4 separate regions of the Homo sapiens genome follow, and all the other regions are linked to region 1. Evidence: fine-mapped expression QTL. A gene starts in region 1. Each other region holds a variant in brackets. All regions are shown on one strand. Distances are from middle to middle.

Region 1 (5,155 bases):
GATTCCTTCAGAGTAAAGACTGCATTTTCTAAATTTTTTTCTCCCCCATATTCTTACAGAATAGTAACACAGAGCAAGGGTGTGATTTTTTTATTTTTATTTTTTTGCAACAAACTGTTCTTGGGGAATGTTCTTTATTTTAATCAAAATTGCAAGATCAGGCTGCCACCTGGCAGAATTGGTCATCTTGGCTATCTTGAACTATTTGAGCTCTCCAAGCACTTAATTCAGCTGAAGCACACAGAAAGAGGATAGGCACACAACGCAAACCAAACTGACCGGTTTTGCCATCTGAAGTATGGTTGTTCTGTCATCTACCAGTGGATGTGGCCTCTGGCCCTTAGGAACCATTCTTTTGACAGTTCCCCAGGACATGGCTCTGGTTTGACTGACTTTGTTTACTAAATAAATTAATTCCTACTTCTGGAGTAGCTTCAGTTTTTAAACAGAAAGCCATCTATTGACAGTCACTGATACACAGGATTTTATTGTTTGATATTAAACAATTAAGAGTTATTGTTTTTTTCCCTACAAGTACACTATACATGAAGATAAATATAATGTAGAATACAGTCACTAGGAGTGGGGAGAGAGGGGGATTCTATATCTGCTCTGTGCCTTAAAGTAACAGTTTTACTTTAGTAAATCCAAAGTACATACTGTATTTCTTTCACAGAAATAAGGCTCTCTTTTGGCAAAATGTGCATCAAAGACAGAGTCTGATGAACATTTTTTAAGATGAGTTTGATTATTAAACAACATTTTTTAAATATCCTAAGAATTTGACCTTTCGTGCTAGTAGACTTCAATAATTTAAAATTACTTGGAAATTGCTACTTTCAACAAACTCTCTGAAGATATACAAAAAAGGAAAATGCTGAAATAAGTCAAGATGTTTACAAATATTATGTCTAAAATGTTATCTCATTTGTTAAACCCAGAAAATAAAAAATAATAAAATATGAAACCATAATTGTCCGAGTATAGGACAAAGATCTGATTTAGAATCAGGCAGAGGTTTTCCCTCTATTACTCCAGCAAGTTCAAATGTACTCAGAAATACAAAATGATTGACGGTAATATCAAGATGAGAAACAAAAGACAATGTTACATCCTCAGGTATGATAAGTTTGAAATTAGATGAGTTTACAGTTGGAAGATTCATTAAGAACAACAATTCAAAAGATATTATAGCCATAATTTAGAAGTCTTGCTTCACGAGAAAAGATAATATAAAAATCTAAAAATTAAGTATTGATTTTACAAGGTAAACATGGCAGCCTGGATTATAAGAAATATCAGGCATTTTGCTTTCTCAGGAGAAAGAACAACTGGGTACATGCTGCAGACTGGCATATAAATCGCTCAAAGTGAAGCAGTTGGGAAATGCTGTCAGATTATTCGGGTTGAGGAGCTGCCCCAGGGGCAGAACATGTCACAATGTCACATCCCTCTTCTTTACTCTCACAACTTTCACCAGAATAAACAGACCCTTGGAAAACAAATTCAATCACAAATAGTAACTTTTTGTTAAAACTACAGTAGCAAACTACCAAACCAACTTTATACATGGAACATATCAGAACTTTTCCATGTTTCCCCAACACAGTGGAATAAACTATTTTCAGCTAATAAGTTCATCTTAGGAAAACACTCATGTGCATTTCTATGCAATATAATTGTGGAACATTGTAACCACTTCTTAGTTTTCATTAGAGGATATTGAAAAACCCAAGTTTAAGGATAATTCCCCCTTTCCCTCGAATGCAGCTTTTTAAGTTTTTGACACTATAAAGTGTAGAGAGTGACATAAAGAAGAGCTATGAATATATATAAATACACCACTATGGCTCCCGTCATAAGAGCTTTTGAAAAATGGTTGAACAAGTATTCATCTTCACCAAATTGCAATCGCAAGATACTGACTGTTACACAATATGAAACAAAGGCAAGGTGAAGGGTGAGGAACGGCAGAAAGGACGGTCGCAAGGAAGACAAGTGCCCCACAGGATAGAACCTGCTCTGTCTTGCGGGCCCCGCTTTTCTCAGCACCTTTCTGGTGTTCTGGGCTTTTCTGCTAATACCATCCACATCATCTCTCAGAGAAATGAATCTCCCTTTAAGGAAAGCCAAGCAGGCATCCGAGGTAACGTGCAGAACCGTAAATGAAAAATGTCCACGTCTAGCAGGCAGACAAGCAAAGGAAAACCAGCTGTCAGTTTCAGAGGCTCCTAGCTGTAACGGGGTTTCGGGTTTCTCTCCGCCTCTGTCTCTCTGTCTCTCTCACGGTGTCGCCCTCAATAATATCAGCTTTCTAATCACCTCAAATCACACATTCTCTGTCTGTCCTTGTGAAATAAATACTGAAGAAACAGGAAAAACAGAGTGCAATACTCACAACAACGAAGAATTCCTACACATGCTGTTCCATTTTCTTGCTTTGAAAAGATGTAAGGTGAATTTTAAAAGCCTTGCAGAATTGGAAAAATAAAGGGGAGGGGGATTCCACCCACACAATCCTCCAGCCCACCGCAAAGGAGCCCAAAGGCTTGCTGACGTCACAGATTCATGAATGGATGTAAATTGGGCTGGTTTAGGATTCCGCACAGACTTCGCTGTGGTGTGTGTCATGAAAAAAAAAAGAGGGGCGGGTCCAGAGTAGGCCCAGCCAATAGGCTTCAGGCAGACATGGCCTTCCTTCTTTTAGAAGGAATCTGGTCACAGAATAAACAGAGCCCGCCAATCAGGCATCTGCCACTGCCTTAAGACAGACTGGCAGCTTGAGTGTGTGTGTGTGTGTGTGTGTGTGCGTGTGTGTGTGTGTGTGTGTGTGTGTTTCAAGCTGTGATAGTCATAAAAACATTATTATTGTTATTGAATGAAGGAATCAAAATAGAATTTCTGTGGAATCAAGGATAACAAAAATGCATATAGAAGAAATCCCATCTTTTATTCATTAGAACTCTTTTCTTCAACCCTTTTCTTACTGTTCAGCAATATGCCTGATGCGATCAAAACAAATCAAAGTCAGGAAAACCATTTCTAAAACTAGCAGACTAGTGGACATGTATGCCCTGCTCACCACGACTTGTAAAAGCAAAATTGTCGGGACTTGTAAAAGCAAAATTGTCGGGAAGAACGCATGGGAACAATAATCTAGTAACTAAGAAAACAGACATATGGAAAATAATATTACACGAATGTAGCTGTTTTGCACAGCAGTAACATCTTGCTGACCTTCATGATGTATCAAAAGTGGATATGGAAGAAAAATTTACTGCTACTTTTAAGTAGGGTACAGTGTTTCCTCATTGGTTTATTCAACTTCTGGCAGTCGATTAAGACACAGCTCCAAAAGGGCACTTAATGAAACTTTGAACAAATTTTGGTTTCAGTAAGATGTTTTATTATTAACAGCAAAAACAGCTGTATTAAATTCACTCAAGAGGCATCTCTTTCTTCTTTATTTTTACACTTTTCAGTTATACAAAATTGGAGATGAATATATTTATTGTCCCTACTCCCCATCACTACACTTCACAATGACTAATACTTGACAAATACTGATCATGATTTTTCTGAACTTGGGAAATGGCCTCAATCCTTGAAACTAGAACGATCGTGGTTAATATAAAGCCTCAGTTATGAGGTGTCCAGTGACCAAGAACATTCTGAACAGAGATCTGCTCTATTTCTCAATCAGATTATTTATACAACTGTGAGAGAAGGAAAGTGGTGGCCTGTTTCTAAGTGGTTCTGGAGGGTCTAAACCTGACCACTAGTAAGTATTGCACACTTCTTAGCTCATTTGGAAAAGGAAAACTTTTCAGGATAATTTTACACACAGCAAAGATATTCAGTGTACTGTCTATATTGAAGCAATAGAATATCGTTGGCAAACAACATAGTTAACAAACTTCTCTAAAGGAGCTTATTGTGGAATATCACTACAAAAAAGATAGACCAAAGAAGTTTACACATGTAACATGGGAGTGCTCAAGGCAAATACGGCATTGGTACACGCCCAGTAGGCCTCAGTGTACCACATTATTTAAGAACGAACATGCAAGGCACGGTGGCTCATGCCTGTAATCCCAACACTTTGGGAGGCCAAGGTGGGCGGATCACGAGGTCAGGGATCGAGACCATCCTGGCTAACATGGTGAAACCCCGTCTCTACTAAAAATACAAAAACAAAATTAGCCGGGCGTGATGGTGGGCGCCTGTAGCCCCAGCTACTCGGGAGGCTGAGGCAGGAGAATGGCGTGAACCCGGGAGGCGGAGCTTGCAGTGAGCCGAGATCTTGCCACTGCACTCCAGCCTGGGTGACAGAGCAAGACTCCGTCTCAAAGAAAAAAGAAAAAAAAAAAACAAAAAACGAACAAATGGAAAGCTGAAGAATATACATCTCTATTTAACAACAACCAAAGCCAATCAGGATACATTAAAAGAATCAGATTTATGGAAAACATTTTTTTCTTCCAAAACAATACAGACTAACTAATGGAAAGAGGCAAACTTTTTGTGGACTATGTCAATAAAATAGCCAAGAAACATCAATTTGTGTGTGTGTGTATATATATATATAATATATACACACACATATAAAATCTGTATATATGTATATGTATATATGTGTGTATACACACACACACACACACACACACATATATATATATACACATACACATATACATATAAAATCTGAGGTCAGGAGTTTGAGACAAGCCTGGCCAACATGGTGAAACCCCATCTCTACTAAAAATACAAAAATTAGCTGGGCATGGTGGCACACATCTGTAATCCCAGCTACTCGGGAAGCTGAGGCATGAGAATCGCTTGAATCTGGGAGGCAGAGGTTGCAGTGAGCTGAGATCACACCACTGCACTCCAGCCTGGTGACAGAGTGAGACTCCCTCTCTCAAAAAAAAAAAAAAAAAAAAAAAAAGCTAAAGCTGTTGTAGAAGTTTTTCTGTAAGTTTTGACAGCAACAAAATTACTAATAAGTCCACTATGGATGGGAGTAGTCTCTGAAGCAATTCAACAAAACAGGGTCTATAAATGCTTCTAATAACAGTCACCTAAGATTCTTGGCTCAATATATAACCTGGAAAATAAAAACTTGGGGGCTTTATGGACTTGCCACTTCAGTAAG
Region 2 (5,155 bases), 67 kb after region 1:
GATCTTTCTGTTTCTACATCACTTATGCTGGAAGATACGGTGACCTTTGCATTACTTCTGTCTCTTCTCAGGTTTTCTCCCGTTACTCATCAAATGCCAAAATGAGGAGATACTTGACTTCTTAAAAAATGAACATAAAGTTCCATCAAATAAATAAAATATGTAAAGTAAATTCAATAAACATATTTTAAATTAGTTAGGATAATGTATACTTACACATTAAATATAACAACACAAATTTAATCAGCAACATGTTATACATAATGCTTTTGGTAAAATACTTTCCCTTTGAGTTGTCCATTTTAATGGTTCTGTGGTGTTCTTAATGTTTCTCCTCATTTCCTTTCCTTGAAATACGTGGAACATAAATGGTTTTTTTAAAACATACATATTTCCATTATTTCCCTAAGTCTATGGTTCATTTAGTTTTCCTCTTTCAACCCTGAAAAAAATGGTGTGGGACAGATGTGACTTCAAATGTAATATTTATCTCTAAGTAAAAGATAGAAAAGAGAAAGCTTTCTAAGAAAGAAGAAAAAAATCAAATAAGAACTAGCACATTTTGCAAGTGGAACACCATTTAGCTAAATATTCTTATCTTTTGCCTCAAAAATACCAGCTTTGTTTAGTGAGGTACTGCAGAGTTTACTGAAAGGCCTGTAGTCCGTCGCCACGTTCCCTGCTTTATCTCTGGCCTGCAGACATGGCAATAATTCTCAGACTCAGTTTTAAAAGACAAAAAAAAAAAAAGACAGAATTAGGAAACTATACATACCATGAACAGAAAGACATGTACTGTACAATATCTATTAATTGTATGCACACAGAGAGAGAGAGAGAGAGTAGCTCTTATTTTGGTTACTGTATTGGTGAAAAATTTCTTGAAGTCTAATTCATCTAACTCCCAATCTTCCTACCCTGTTTAGTTGTGACTACATAAGAACCTGTTTCTTTTTCTTTTCTTTTCTTTTTTTTTTTTTTTGAGACGGAGTCTCACTGTGTTGCCCAGACTGGAGTGCAGTGGCACGGTCTCAGCTCATTGCAACCTCCGCCTCCTGGGTTCAAGAGATTCTCCCACCTCAGTCTCCCGAGTAGCTGGGATTACAGGCATGTGCCACCACACCTGGCTGATTTTTGTATTATTAGTAGAGACAGGGTTTCACCATGTTGGCCAGGCTGGTCTCGAACTCCTGACCTCAGGTGATCTGCCTGCCTTGTCCTCCCAAAATGCTGGGATTACAGGTGTGAGTCACTGCGCCCAGCCAATAACCTATTTCTAAGTTGCCAATTATCTACCTCAAAAGGAAGGAAGCCACAACCACTGGACTCTCATGCTACCTCATGATTAGAGGAGGAGAAACTGGGGTAATTGATGTGCTGGTTGGTATTTTTCACAGCTTTCAAAAATATCCAATTACTAGGTTTAAATCAACCTTGGGAATGTCCTGGACATGACATAAGCAGAGGTAGTAGCTGTGACTACCATCTCTCAAATGTAGCAGAGCCTTTGTAATGGACAGACTGTGTACATTTTATGCCAATAGGAAATTTCCTAATACAGAAAGCAAGTTTTTTTTTAGAAGAGTAACTGCACAATGTCTTATAGTTAAATAGGTTTTCTGGGTTTCTATGTAAGACTCAAATATCTGTGACCTGTGCCAGAGAACAAATTCTTGATTCCAGTTCAATCATTTCTGAGCAACCTAACTCTCTAATAAGTCAAATTTATAACATGACTTTAGCCACTGTGCAGGACCTTCTGTACATTAACTTTACCCACTTTAATACTATTACATTTGCTTTGTCTTATTCTCTTTATGTCCCCATCCTACATACTATATGCATTTTAAAATATTTTTTAGAACAAGGCAGGATATAAATAAATTTAATTAATTCATCTTGTAAAATCATCTTGAAATATTAAGTCCTCATAATTTGGGCTACAGGTCTCATTGTCCCAAATATGCATCTCTGTGAGTACAGGTTAAATTCACTCAACTAATAAATAAGTTCTAAGGGCCCACCATGTGTCAGTCACTGTTCTCAACACTGGGGAAAATACCTATGAAGAGAATGCCAATCAGAGATAAGTACAATGGAGAACAGTAAAGCAGAGAAGACTAGGGATGCCATGTAGTGAGGTTACAATTTTAAATAAGATGGTCAAAGAGGGCCTCACTGAGGTCACATAACCTGAAGGGCCTAAAGAAGATGAGAGATTAAACCAGATAGATATCTAAGGCAAGGGTATTCCAGGCACAGGGAATATCAAGTACAAAGGTCCTGAGGCAGAAGGAAGCTTGGCATTTCTAAGGATCAGCTAAGAGATCTGGGCTGGGTAGTCCAATAGATGGTAGAGAGGTAAGGAGAGAGCAGAGGCATATCAGGTAAGGCCCTGGAGACCATTATAAGGACTTGGGCTCATACTTGGAGTGAGATGAGAAGCAACTGAAGGGTTTTGGTTTGTGTGTTTGAGACAGGGTCTTGCTCTGTTACCCAGGCTGGAGTGCAGTGGCACAATCATGGCTCACCGCAGCCTGGACCTCCTGGGCTCCAGCAATCCTTCCACCTCAGCCTCCTGAGTAGCTGGGACTACAGGTGTGTGCCACAATGCCCGGCTCATTTTTAAATTATTTTTATTTTGTAGAGACTGGAGTCTCACTGTGTTGCTGGTCTTGAACTCCTGGCCTCAAGCAATCCTCCTGCCTTGGCCTCCGAAAGTGCTGGAATTGCAGTCGTGAGCACTGCA[G/C]TCAGTCAAGAGGAGGGTTTTGAACAGAGGAAGTTAAACAACCCAGAACTTACAGTACTGAAATATCTAAGTGAAGAGTGGTGGCTGTGGGAAGAATCAGTTGACAAATATTTACTGAATCCCTACTATTTGCCAGGAAATTTCCTAAACACTGGGCATACAGTGTAATAAAACATGCACCAGTCATTGCCCTCCTGAAGGTTGTCTTGTAAGATTATTAATAAATGATTATATATGAGAAATAATTACAACTATGCTAGATGTGAGAAAAAAATGGGTGATTTATGACAGAATGATAGAGAAGGGAGGTCTAATCTAGTCTGAGATATGGAGGAAGGCTTCTTGGAAAAAATAATATTTAAAGTGAGACTGGTAGTATGAGTAGAAGTGGGTTATGTGAAGAGGAACAGGAGAGAGGAGGGCATTCCAAGCAGAAAGTATCTGCTCTGCAAAAGCCCTAAAGAAGGCTGGGCGCTGTGGCTTACGCCTGTAATCCCAGCACTTTGGGAGGCCCAGGTGGGTGGATCACGAGGTCAGGAGTTCAAGACCAGCCTGGCCCACATGGTGAAACCCCATCTCTACTAAAAATACAAAAATTAGCCAGGCATAGTGGCGGGCGCCTATAATCCCAGCTACTTGGGAGGCAGAGGCAGAGAACTGCTTGAACCTGGGAGGCGGAGGTTGCAGTGAGCCAAGATTGCACCACTGCACTCCAGCCTGGGCGACAGAGCAAAACTCCGTCTCAAAAACAACAACAACAACAACAACAAAAACAACAACAAATACCCTGAAGAAAAAAAAATGGCATTGTCAGAGAATTGGAAGACCATTATGGCTTGAGCTTAGTAGACAAAGAATGATTGAAGATTTGGGGCTGAATTCTAAGGGCAATAAGATAATAAGAGTTTAGATTGGAGGACCAAAAAGATTAGAATTGTATTTTTAAAAATCAGTCTAAAAGCAATGAGATTAGAGGGGGGAGGAGTAAATACAAAAAACCATTGAAGAGTTATTGCAAAAATGTAGGCGAAGATGATAAAATAAATAAGGATGGACATGGAAACAGGTGAATAATTTGAAAGATATTTAGGAAGTAGAAAAGACAGAATTTTGCAATGGATTAGTTTCATGAGGGTTGTGGAAGAAGGTCAGGGATAGCTGAAGTTGCTTAACTACTCTCTTGAACTTTCTCATAGGTAGATCCTACTTCCTACATGGAGAGGTAGTAATACCAATGCCATTTTTTGGCAAAGGAGTGGAGGAAGAAGGAACAACAAAATGTCAATTACATATAGTAATGAGCCTTTTATGCCACAGCTGCCAATTGTCATAAACATAACAGCCTCGATTTATACAACCTTTGCAATTCATTCTGTCTCCATTAATGCAAGAAGTTTGGCCATGGCTGTTCAGGAAGAATGAGGCAGTTGGATTCTACATTATACATCTTCTGATAAATATTCATATTGCTAGGACTATGTACATTCATATAATTTATAAGCAGAGAAAAGTAATACCTTGTACAACCTTCTATCACAGTTTAAATAAGTAATTCCAGGGCACTAAAGACAGCATTTCAGTACACTAAAGCACTAAAAAATTAGTTCTTCATCAATGAATTGGAAAGCACAACCATGCCCTATTGTTCACGGACACTATAATAAAGTCACCTATGCTAACCTAACCAATGCTATCATCAAAGAGGGAGATATCTATTTTTAGGAGTAACAGTTGAACAAGTTAATGTCAGTGACTTATTTATCTTAAATCATTAAACTAAAGATAAACCTAGTTACTCAGAGAAAGAAAAGAAATGGCATTTTCTTTTCCAGAGACCATCAAATTCCCAGTCATGCTAACTACATTCTCGATAGCCTCTCTCTACTTAGTCCTCAAGTAATGCTAAAAGGAGGGTTTTGTTTGCCATTAGGCCAGAAAGATACAAGTAAAAAAAAATTAAAAAGCAAAATATTTGACACAATCCTTCTGCTAGTAGAGGTTGAAGCAACCTTTTAAATGCTATTATCAGAATAGATATTAAAATATTAAATATCCATAAGGCATATAGGCTTTCTCTGTGCTACAAAATAAAAAATATTTCAATTACACCATAAGTCAAATTGATATTAAATTCTTTGTCACGAGTAGTAGCATAAAGTGAAAAAAAATGCTGAGTCTCCTAGGAATCCAAATGTGTAGGAAGGCATTAGTGCCAAAATGGTACTCCAAGAACAGCAACTGATGGGCGGGCACAGTGGCTCATGTCTGTAATCCCAGCACTTTGGGAGGCCAAGGCGGGTGGATCGCTTGAGCTCAGGAGTTCAAGACCAGCCTGGGTAACATGATGAAACCCCATCTCTACAAAAAATACAAAAATTAGCTGGGTGTGGTGGCATGTGCCTGTAG
Region 3 (5,155 bases), 25 kb before region 1:
ATGGGGAGTTACTGGTTAATGGGTACGGAGTATCAGTTTTACAAAATGAAAAGAGTTCTGTGGATGGATGGCAGTGGTGATGGTTGCACAACAACATCAATGTACTTAATGCCGTTGAACTGGACACTTCAAATGGCTAAAACTGTAAATGTTATGCTATGGGTATTTTATCATAACAAAAAAAGAAAGGGCAAAATCCTGCCTTCAGTATTGAAATTGCAGTAACTGGCAGCTATTGGTATGAACCTTGGACAGACCGGGATGTGTAGGATGGTGCTGTTGATGCAGGTATAAGAAAGGAAAATATCGGCCCAGCGCAGTGGCTCACGCCTGTAATCCCAGCACTTTGTGAGGCCGAGGCAGGCCGATCATGAGGTCAAAAGATCGAGACCATCCTGGCCAACATGGTAAACCCCATCTCTACCAAAAATACAAAAATTAGCTGGGCGTGGTGGTGGGCGCCTGTAGTCCCAGCTACTCAGGAGGCTGAGGCAGGAGAATCACTTGAACCTGGGAGGCAGAGGTTACAGTGAGCTGAGATTGTGCCACTGCACTCCAGCCTGGCGACAGAGCAAGACTCTGTCTCAAAAAAAAAAAAAAAAAAAAATTCTGACTGTAAAGTGATTTCAAAGAAACTTAGGAGATAAAGCTGAAGGTTGAAAACATTCACAAGAATAAAATCCTGCTTTGTAATGAGTAACAATAAACTATTCTCTAAGGGTTGTCTATTAGAACCTCCATCTTTGCGTAGCCTTTAAGAAAAATGTTATTTTCTCTATGAAACTGTGCTCACTTGCCAAGGAGGGAGGCTGCGCAGTGGCACAGAAAAGAGTTTGGACCCTGAAGCCAGACAGTCTGAAACTGAATGCTGACTCCACCTTGATGAATTTACTCTCTTTGTGCTTTGGTTTCAACTGGAAATTAGAGATAATAACAATAGCACCCACCACACAGAGCTGCTGTGAGAATTAAATATGTAAAGCACTGTGAACAGTGTCTGGCACACACTAAATCCAATAGAGATATTAGCTATTACTCACACCCTACGCAATGGTGCTTATAGTATGCTCTGGGAACTCCTGGGGACCTCTGAGATCTTTCAGGGGGTCTGTGAATTATTTACATAATAATAAGATATTATTTTCCTGTTTATCACATTCTCTCACAAGTAGACAGTGGAGATCCCCCGTGGCCACTATATACCATTTGATATCACAACAGATTGAAAGCAGAAGCAGATATGAGAATCCAGTTATCATCTATTAAGTCGGACATTAAAGACATTTGCAAAGACCTCTTTTCACAATACCACTCTCCTCACAAAAAATTGTGAAGGTTTGGAAACTGTAGTTCTTTTTTCATGAAAGAAAATGTTCTTTATGTTACTGTATGATAGGTTTATTATTTTTAAAATAAATTAATAAATACTTAACAAATTTTTTGTTTTAGTTTCTAATATGGTAAATATAGACGATATAACTCACATAAACAAAAGCCCTTTGGTTTGGGGTCCTCATTTTTTTTTTTTATCGGTCCTGAAACCAAAAAGTTTGAGAATTGCTGCCCGACTAAAATACGGCGTATGTGTCAATCTCTCCAAGTAGACTGTGAATTCTTGTGGACAGGAATACTATTGTATTTTTTTTCTTTTTCTTTTCTATCTTTTTTTAAAAAAAAATTTCCCCCAGGTATCAACTGGCAGTCTTTTTTACATGGTTAGACAATAAATGAAAAGAAAGAAGCTAATATATATTAGCAACTATCATTTGTTCAGGGCTTAGTATTTGTGATGCATTATGCTCAGACTTTATGTACCTTATCTCATTTAACCCCTGTTAGGTTCTGTAATTATTCCTATTATATACATAGGAGAAACTTAGAGACTTTAAATAACTTACCCAAGGCATACAGCTAATAAATGGAAATACTAAGACTCAACTAGCATTGTCTCACTTTAGAGGCCAAACTTGTAACCCCTTTGAAAGAATGGGATTGTGTACAGAAATTTGGAAGGCTATGATTAGGCAAGACAAATCATTTACAAAGCATGGTGCTCATAGTATCTATTAAGTACCTAGTTTACCTTTACCAGAGGTTTGTAATTCTGAATGACTCTTGGATGTTCATATTGTCAATTAGAGCAACTTTTATTTTGTTTAACGCAGAGAACATACTCTCATACACTGATGTCTAAAAGGTCTTTTCTAAGAAGGTCAACTCCCTAACCAGAATGTACTGCCTCTGCTGCTCAGGGAAGTAAAAAAGAGGTACCTCTGAAAGAACGAATATGACACAAATTTTAAGGTGTAACATTTAAAAAACAATGTAACAATATTATGAAAATTTGAGAAATGAATTTATTTCTGGTTCTATTCTATCCATTGGTCTGTGTGTCTGTTTTTATACCAATACCATGTTGTTTTGGTTACTATGCCTTTGTAGTGTATTTTGGAGTCAGGTTTTGTGATGCCTCCAGCTTTGTTCTTTTTGTTCAGTATTGCTTTGGCTATTCAGGGTCTTTTGTGGTTCCGTATGAATTTTAGGATTGCTTCGTCTATTTCTGTGAAGAA[C/T]ATCATTGGTATTTTGATAGGGATGGCATTGACTCTCTAGATTGCTTTGGGTAATATGGCCATTTTTAACAATATTAATTCTTCCGATCCATGAGCATGTGATAGCTGTCCATTTGTTTGTGTTCTCTTCAATTTTCTTCTTCTTTTTTCTTTTTTTGAGCCAGGGTCTCACTCTGTCACCTAGGCTGGAGTGCAGTGCTGTGATCATGGCTCGCTACAGCCTCGGCCTCCTGGGCTCAAGCAATGCTCCCATCTCATCCTCCCGAGTAGCTGGAACTACAGGTGCATGCCACCACATCCGGCTACTTTTTGTATTTTTTGTAGAGACAAAATTTTGCCTCGTTTCCCAGGTTGGTCTGGAACTCCAGGACTCAAGTGATCCACCTGCCTCAGCCTCCCAAAATGCTAGGATTACAGGCATAAGTTATGGTGCCTGGCCTCTTTAATTTCTTTTATAAGTGTTTTGTAGCTTTCTTGTATAAGTCTTTTACCTCCTTGGTTACATTTATTCCTAGTTGGGATTTTTTTTTTTTTGGTAGCAATTGTAAATGGGATTGTTTTCTTGATTATTTTTCAGCTAGTTTGTTGTTGGTATATATTTTGTGTAAACTACTGATTTTTGTGCACTGATTTTTAAACTTTTTTAACCACCTAAGTTCTTGTCTCATGTATGTTGATTTTCGTATCCTGCAACTTCCCTGAATTTGTTAATCAGTTCTGTGAGTTTTTTAGTGAAGTCTTTAGGATTTTCTATATATAAGAGCATGTTATCTGCAAAGAGGAAAAATCTGACTTCCTCTTTTCCAATTTGGATGCTGTTTATTTCCTTCTTTTGCTTGATTGCTCAGGCTAGGACTTCCCATGCTATGTTGAATGAGACTGGTGAAAGTGACCATATTGTTCTAGTTCTTAGAGGAAAGGCTTTCACCTTTCCCCATTCAGTGTGATGATAGCTGTGAGTTTCTCTCATGTGGTCTTTATTATGTTGAGGTATGATCCTTCTATGACTAATTTGTTGAAAGTTTTTGATCATGAAGGGATGTTGAATTTTATCAATAATTTTTCTGCATCTATTGAGGTGATCATATGGTGTCTTAGTCCATTTTGTGTTCTTAAAAAGGAATACCCGAGGCTGGGTAATTTATTTTTTAAAAAAAGGTTTCCCTGGCTCCTGATTCTGATGCCTCAAAAAGTTCAAGACTGGGCATCTTCATCTGGTGAGGGCATTAGGCTGCTTCCACTCACGGTGGAAAGCAAAGGGAAGCCAACTTGTGCAGAGATCACATAGAGAGAGAGGAAGCAACAGAGAGGTGGGGAGGTGCCAGGCTCTTTTTAACAAGCAGCACTCACAGGCACTAATAGAGTGAGAACTCACTGATCCGAAAGGAAGAGCATTAGTATATTCATGAGGGATCTGCCCCATGACCCAAACATCTCCCATTAGGCCCCACCTCCAACACTGAAAATCAAATTTCAAAATGAAATTTGGTGGGAACAAATAAACCATATCCAAACTATGGCATATGTCCTTCATTCTGCTGATGTTGATGTGATGTATCACATTTATTTATTTTTCCTTTCTTTCTTCAACTTTTATTTTAAGTTCAGAGATACATGTGCAGGATGCGCAGGTCTGTTACATAGGTAAATGTGTGCCATGGTAGTTTGCTGCACACATCATCCCATTCCCCAGGCATTAAGCCCAGCATCCACTAGCTTATTCTTCCTGATCCTCCTCCCTCTCCCACCCCCTGCCCTCTGACAGGATTCAGTATGTGTTGTTCCCCACCATGTGTCCATGTGTTCTCATCATTTAGTTCCCACTTATAAGTGAGAACATGTGGTATTTGGTTTTCTATTCCTGCATTAGTTTGCTAAAGATAATGGCCTCCAGCTCCATCCATGTCTCTGCAAAGAACATGATCTTATTCCTTTTTATGGCTGCATAGTGTTCCACGGTGTATATGTACCACATTTTCTTTATCCAATCTATCATTGATGGGCATTTAGGTTGACTCCCTGTCTTTGCTATTGTGAATAGTGCTGCAATGAACATACGCGTGCATGTGTTTTTAGAGTAGAGTGATTTATATTCCTTTGGGTATATACCCAGTAATAGGATTGCTGGGTCAAATGGTATTTTTACCTCTACGTGTTTTAGGAATAGCCACATTATCTTCCACTAGTTTACACTCCCACCAACAGTATCAGAGCATTCCCTTTTCTCCACTACCTTGCCAGCATCAGTTGTTTTTTGACTTTTTAATAGCCATTCTGATTGGTATGAGGTGGTATTTCATCATGGTTTTGATTTGCATTTCTCTAATGATCAGTGATGTTGAGATTTTTTTGATATGTTTGTTGGCCACATGTATGTCTTCTTTTGAGAAGTGTCTGTTCATGTCCTTTGCCCACTTTTTAATGGGAATGTTTGTTTTTTTTCTTGTAAATTTGTTTAAGCTCCTTATAGATGCTGAATATTAGACCTTTGTTGGATGCATAGATTGCAAAAATTTTCTCCCATTCCGTAGATTGTCTGTTTATTCTGTTGACAGTTTTTTTTGCTGGTATCACATTTATTGATT
Region 4 (5,155 bases), 190 kb after region 1:
TGGGCTGCTGGCAAGGGAGTGGCTCTAGCACAGACACCCCTTTCTTCTTCCTCGGAGGGAGCAGGAAGTTGCTGAGTGAAGCGTTGTTTCTCAACCTCTCCACCCCCCAGTTATCAGAGGCAAGGCTCTGTGTGGCCGTCTGTCTCCTGTTCCTGGGCAGGGCTGGGCCAGAGGACAACACCAAGATAAATAACCCCAGCATACTAGGGCCCTCTTTTACTGCTTGTGGACTTAGGCAACCTGGCAGTGCTAGCCAGATTCCAAGGCTAGAGGCTGGCTTAAGCGAAAGGGGCAATTTGGGGAGTGGTCTTGCTCTGATGCCCCAGAGCTGTTTGTTTTTGTGCCTCTAGTTAGTAGAATATTTGGAGCCATAATTGCCAAATGTGTAAAACCACACCGTTTTTGGGTTAAAGAGAGACAGACGAGAGAAAGAGACAGACACAAAATGCATCTTTAATATACCTTAAAATATGTGTATATGCATAATAATAATTGTCCTTTTTTCTTTTGTTTTCCTAAAATCAGAACAGGACAGCACACTCTCTCTGTCCACCCATCAAGTTCATCATCTGTGGATCACTGTATTTATCATTGAAAAAACATACACCACCCCTAATATTGCAGAGCAGCATTCTAAATATTCTGCTTGTATTAACTCATTTAATTCTCACAATACCCCTATGCAGTAGGCATTCCAGTATTATTATCACCGTTTTACAGATGAGGAAACTGAAGCACAGAAAGATTACTTTTCCAAGGACACACAGAGATAAACCCAAGTTTTTTGTTTGTTTATTTGTTTTTTGTTTTGTTTTTGATTTTGTTTTTGTTTTGAGACGGAGTCTTGCTCTGTTGCCAGGCTGGAGTGCAGTGGCGCAATCTCGGCTCACTGCAACCTCCGCCTCCTGGGTTAAAGTGATTCTCCTGCCTCAGCCTCCTGAGCAGCTGGGACTATAGGTGTGCGCCACCATGCCCAGCTAATTTTTGTATTTTTAGAGATGGGGGTTTCACCGTGTTGGCCAGGGTGGTCTCGATCTCTTGACCTCGTGATCTGCCTGCCTCGGCCTCCCAAAGTGCTGGGATTACAGGCATGCACCACTGTGCCCAGCTGTTTTTTTGTTTTTTGGTTTTTTTTTTACTGTAAGTTGTGGGATACATGTGCTGAACATGCAGGTTTGTTACATAGGTATACATGTGCCATGGTGGTTTGCTGCACCTATCAACCCGTCTCTGGGTGATAAACCCAAGATTTTAACGTGGGCAATCTGGCTCTAGAGTCTATGCTACTAATTATTATGCTATGCAATTTGTACTTATTTATAAATCACACACATATGCTACTGTAATAACATTAGTATATACCTCATGAAACACAAACATATACGGACATTTTAAAAGGCAATGTTAAAAATAAATATAAATATAATTTCTGATATTTTCTTCCTTGACTCCAATAGATTGTCTTGTAATCCCCCATTTTAGAGACCACTGTTTGAGAATTTGGAGCCCTGTGGAAAGAGCCTGACCACGACAGGCTCAGGGAACATGAGCTGTACCACTTCACCATTAATACAGTGAGCTTCCGATACTTTCCAGCACCATGCTTCCTTTTTAACACAACCAAGTTTTGCAGATGCTCATATAAGAGTTGTACCTTTAGGCCGGGTGTGGTGGCTCACGCCTGAAATCCCAGCACTTTGGGAGGCCGAGGCAGGCAGATCACCTGAGGTCATGAGTTTTAGAGCAGCCTGGCCAACATGGTGAAACCCCGTCTCTACTAAAAATACAAGAATTAGCTCCAGATGGTGGTGTGCACCTGTAATCCCAGCTACTCAGGAGGCTGAGGCAGGAGAATCACTTGAACCCGGGTAGTGGAGGTTACAGTGAGCCAAGATCGTGCCATTGCACTCCACCCGGGGCAACAAGAGCGAGATTCCGTCTCAAAAAAAAAAAAGGGGGGGTTGTACCTTTTGTATCTGTTGATTGAGAAAAGACACTATAATTGAAGCTATTGAGTAACACGTGCTTTCAAATGACTTGATTAATTACAGCGGCACCTACATAATGTAAAAAGTGGCCCACACATATGCAAGTCACATTAATTTTTCAGTCTACGTAGAATACTCAGTATATATATGGATTTGCTTGCTTCTTCTGGGTCCCCGGCGTGCATAACCTTTGTAGATGCTGGAATTTGTTAGTGTGGTGGAAAGATTTTGAGTTCACAAGCCAGTCAGAAATGAGTTTGAATTCTAGTCTCACATATGCGACCTGAAATAAACAACGAATTTTTTCCCTGCCTGAGTTTCCTTGTTTGTAAAAGGAGGATAATACATCCTTGCTTGTTTGTTGTAAGCACAGCTATATATAAAAAGTCTCGGATACATATTGACACAATAAATGGCAGCCATTATTCTCAGAAGCAGATTTACTCCGAAGCTAGCAAAGCTTACAGCTCTTGGCAGGGGCTCTTTCCAAGACTTCAGGAAGGCCCTGGCAATTTTGTGATTTGTAATCTTGTACTCTTTTCCTTAAAAAGGGCCCCTAAAATTATATACCTGTCAGGTTCTCATTGGATCCGCCGAATTACTGCTGTGCTATGCTTCCACTTAAAGGGAATATCTGAGAAACGAGGTACTATAATGACAGGTAAAGTGCCCCGCCCCTCTGATTAGAGCCAATGATGGGAGTGCATGTGAATTGCTGAGGCAGGTTCAGAGCCAGTTCCCAGAAAAAGGGTTTAAACAGCTACCCTCCAAGGAGAAGTGAAAGTGAT[T/C]GCACTAAGTATTCAGCCTCATGGGGGTGGGGGTGTGGAGAGAGGGGCACTGAGAGGGAGCTGGGATGCTTCCTGACTCCCCTAGGCTCTGCGTAGCAACCAACCATGTCAGCAGGGGTGCGCTTCCCATGTGCCCTAGTCAGACTCAGAATTAAAATCTCTTAGTTGGGCTCTGAATAATGTCCTAAACTGGTGGTTCTCAACTCTGGATGCACAGAAGAACAATCTGGGGAGTTCTGAAAAAATACTACCCCGGAGATTCTGACTGACTTGGCCCAGGGAACTGGTATTTTTATGCACTCCTCAGGAAGTGTCAATGTACAGTCAGGTTGGGGAACCACTGCCCAAACTAGTACGTGCAGTTTCAGTAGGACAGACAGTGGAGTCAAAGCTAGTGCCCAGCAGTGGGAGAGACAGCAGCAAATGGCACAAATCTTTCTTAGGACTCCCGTGGGGCAGGCACTGTGCTTGGAACAAAGATGCCTAAGAGCTCTGACTGTCGCTGGCACACAAGGAATTTACAGTCTAATCAAGGTGTACCGGCTGCCATGATTCTTACAAGAGGGACTCTGAGCTCAGCTAGGATGTGTCAAGGAAAGCCTCCTGGAGTGACTTGAGTCATACAGGATAAAGTAATTATCCAGATGAAGAAAGGAAAAGTGGGGTTTAGGGATATGAATTACGATATTGCATTGAGTGTATTGACTGGGCTGGGGCTGTGGGAATGACATGAAATTCCAGATTAGTAGAACGAAAAAACAGTGAGGCAATGAACATTCATCAGCTAATGTAAAGGAGTAAAGAGACATTGGACCATGGGGCAAGCTAAAGGGGCAGCTGGACTGGCTGGAAATGTGCCAGAGGAGCAGCCCTGGGAGCAGAGGGTGATGGCACAGCTCTTGGGTGACCAGTGAGAACCACAAGTCCATCCAGCCCAGATGAAGCGCCTCTGCATCCCAAGCTGGAGAAGGAGGGGCCACAGGGCTCTCGACAGACCTAGCCCAAGAGGATGATAGAATGGGAAGGAGGACCACTTTCACTGGGATTGATTGCCTTTGGGGTCACATGAAAGGTCCATGAACTTTCCTTCTCAGGCACAGCTCTGGGAGGGCTGTTTGACAAATAGGGAGATTTCAGGCCATCCTGAAACTTAGCCCATCTCCACTGGCCTGGCACTGCTGTTTCCAAAACTACTTCATTTAGGAGCTCAACAATTTGTGTTTACTCTCAATAATATGTTTTGTTTATAAGTTTTTTCTTCTTCTTTTTTTAACATTTTGAACATCCATCTTGTCTATGATACTGCCCTGCATGCTTCCATAATCAGAAATTTGTTTCCCTTCTTCCACTGGGAACATGTTTTCCTGTTTGTGTTTCTAGAGCATTTAACCAGTTGGTTCTAGTTTATATTTAACACTCTGACTCATGATAATAACTGTTTACTATGTTCCTGGCATTATGCTAAGTGCTTTATGTACAATAACTGAGTTATTCTGCAAAAGTACCCTCAAGATACGTATTATGGGTCCCATTTTACCACTAAGGAAAAGGAGACAGAAATTTTAAGGAACTTGCCAAAGACTATCTGAGTCCAAAATACTGTTCTTAATTGCACTCTCTCTCTCTCTCTCTATCTATATATATACACACATACACATATATGTATAAATATATATGTAAATGCTTCTTTATACCAATAGCATTTTGTCATGATTCTTTTCCATACTGTACTCCTTCTGTTTTGTCATATATTAAGCTCTTAGCGTTTGAATTAATGTGTTAAATCTGTTTATTTCAGATTCAGTAACTTATTCTATTTTTAATTTAATGCTCCACTGCTTTTATAATGATGACTTTGTAACATATATTAAAATTTAGTACAGCCAAAAATATACAATAGTGTGAATCAATAATCATTACATCCTCTAAAATAAGTATTCTTTGGCATTCTTCTTGCTATTATCCAGCTGAATTGCCCTCTTATTTTGTTAGACACTTGAAGTTAACCTGCCGAGGCTTTAATTGGTAAATCTACATGTTGCCTAGGAAATACTATTTTATTCACTTTTCTAATCAGATATGGAACTTGATTTATTAACAACGTCCTCTGTAATTTCTCTGAACAAACCTTACTATAAGTTAAATCAACCCCATGTGTTTAATCTGTTTTGGTTGTACTAGCAACAATAAAATTTATTTTTTGTATTTCCTTATTAGATATCAGTTTCATATTGGCATATATACATAAAACAGTATACGTACATAGAATATATAATAGATACACGCACATACACACATGTATGTACATACAAATGTTTTAGAGGTATTAAGGTTAGTCCTGCAACTGAGCTCATTACTTTCAGTAATTTTCAGTTGATT

The links. PIP is the estimated chance that this variant, and not a neighbour inherited with it, causes the effect.
Region 2: its variant is the best candidate, but not a certain one, in a credible set for the expression of MAP3K13 in whole blood (INTERVAL, PIP 0.74).
Region 3: its variant is the best candidate, but not a certain one, in a credible set for the expression of MAP3K13 in whole blood (TOPMed, PIP 0.52).
Region 4: its variant is the best candidate, but not a certain one, in a credible set for the expression of MAP3K13 in monocytes (BLUEPRINT, PIP 0.66).

What each region holds. Positions count from the first base shown.
Region 1 is chr3:185,360,612-185,365,766 of GRCh38, reverse strand. MAP3K13 (mitogen-activated protein kinase kinase kinase 13) reads right to left here and starts at 2,631. Exons shown (of 14, transcript NM_004721.5): 1 at 2,399-2,631. RefSeq lists enhancers at 1,940-1,999, 2,090-2,179 and a silencer at 2,650-2,799.
Region 2 is chr3:185,293,562-185,298,716 of GRCh38, reverse strand. It overlaps a transcript of MAP3K13 not described here. Among named protein-coding and RNA genes, the nearest start is that of EHHADH, 42 kb to the right of the region's middle. The variant G/C (reference allele first, on the strand shown) is at 2,750.
Region 3 is chr3:185,386,074-185,391,228 of GRCh38, reverse strand. All of the region lies in intron 1 of MAP3K13 (mitogen-activated protein kinase kinase kinase 13), which reads right to left. Among named protein-coding and RNA genes, the nearest start is that of MAP3K13, 26 kb to the right of the region's middle. The variant C/T (reference allele first, on the strand shown) is at 2,571.
Region 4 is chr3:185,170,524-185,175,678 of GRCh38, reverse strand. All of the region lies in intron 1 of EHHADH-AS1 (EHHADH antisense RNA 1), which reads right to left. Among named protein-coding and RNA genes, the nearest start is that of EHHADH-AS1, 10 kb to the right of the region's middle. RefSeq lists enhancers at 1-198, 1-469. The variant T/C (reference allele first, on the strand shown) is at 2,777.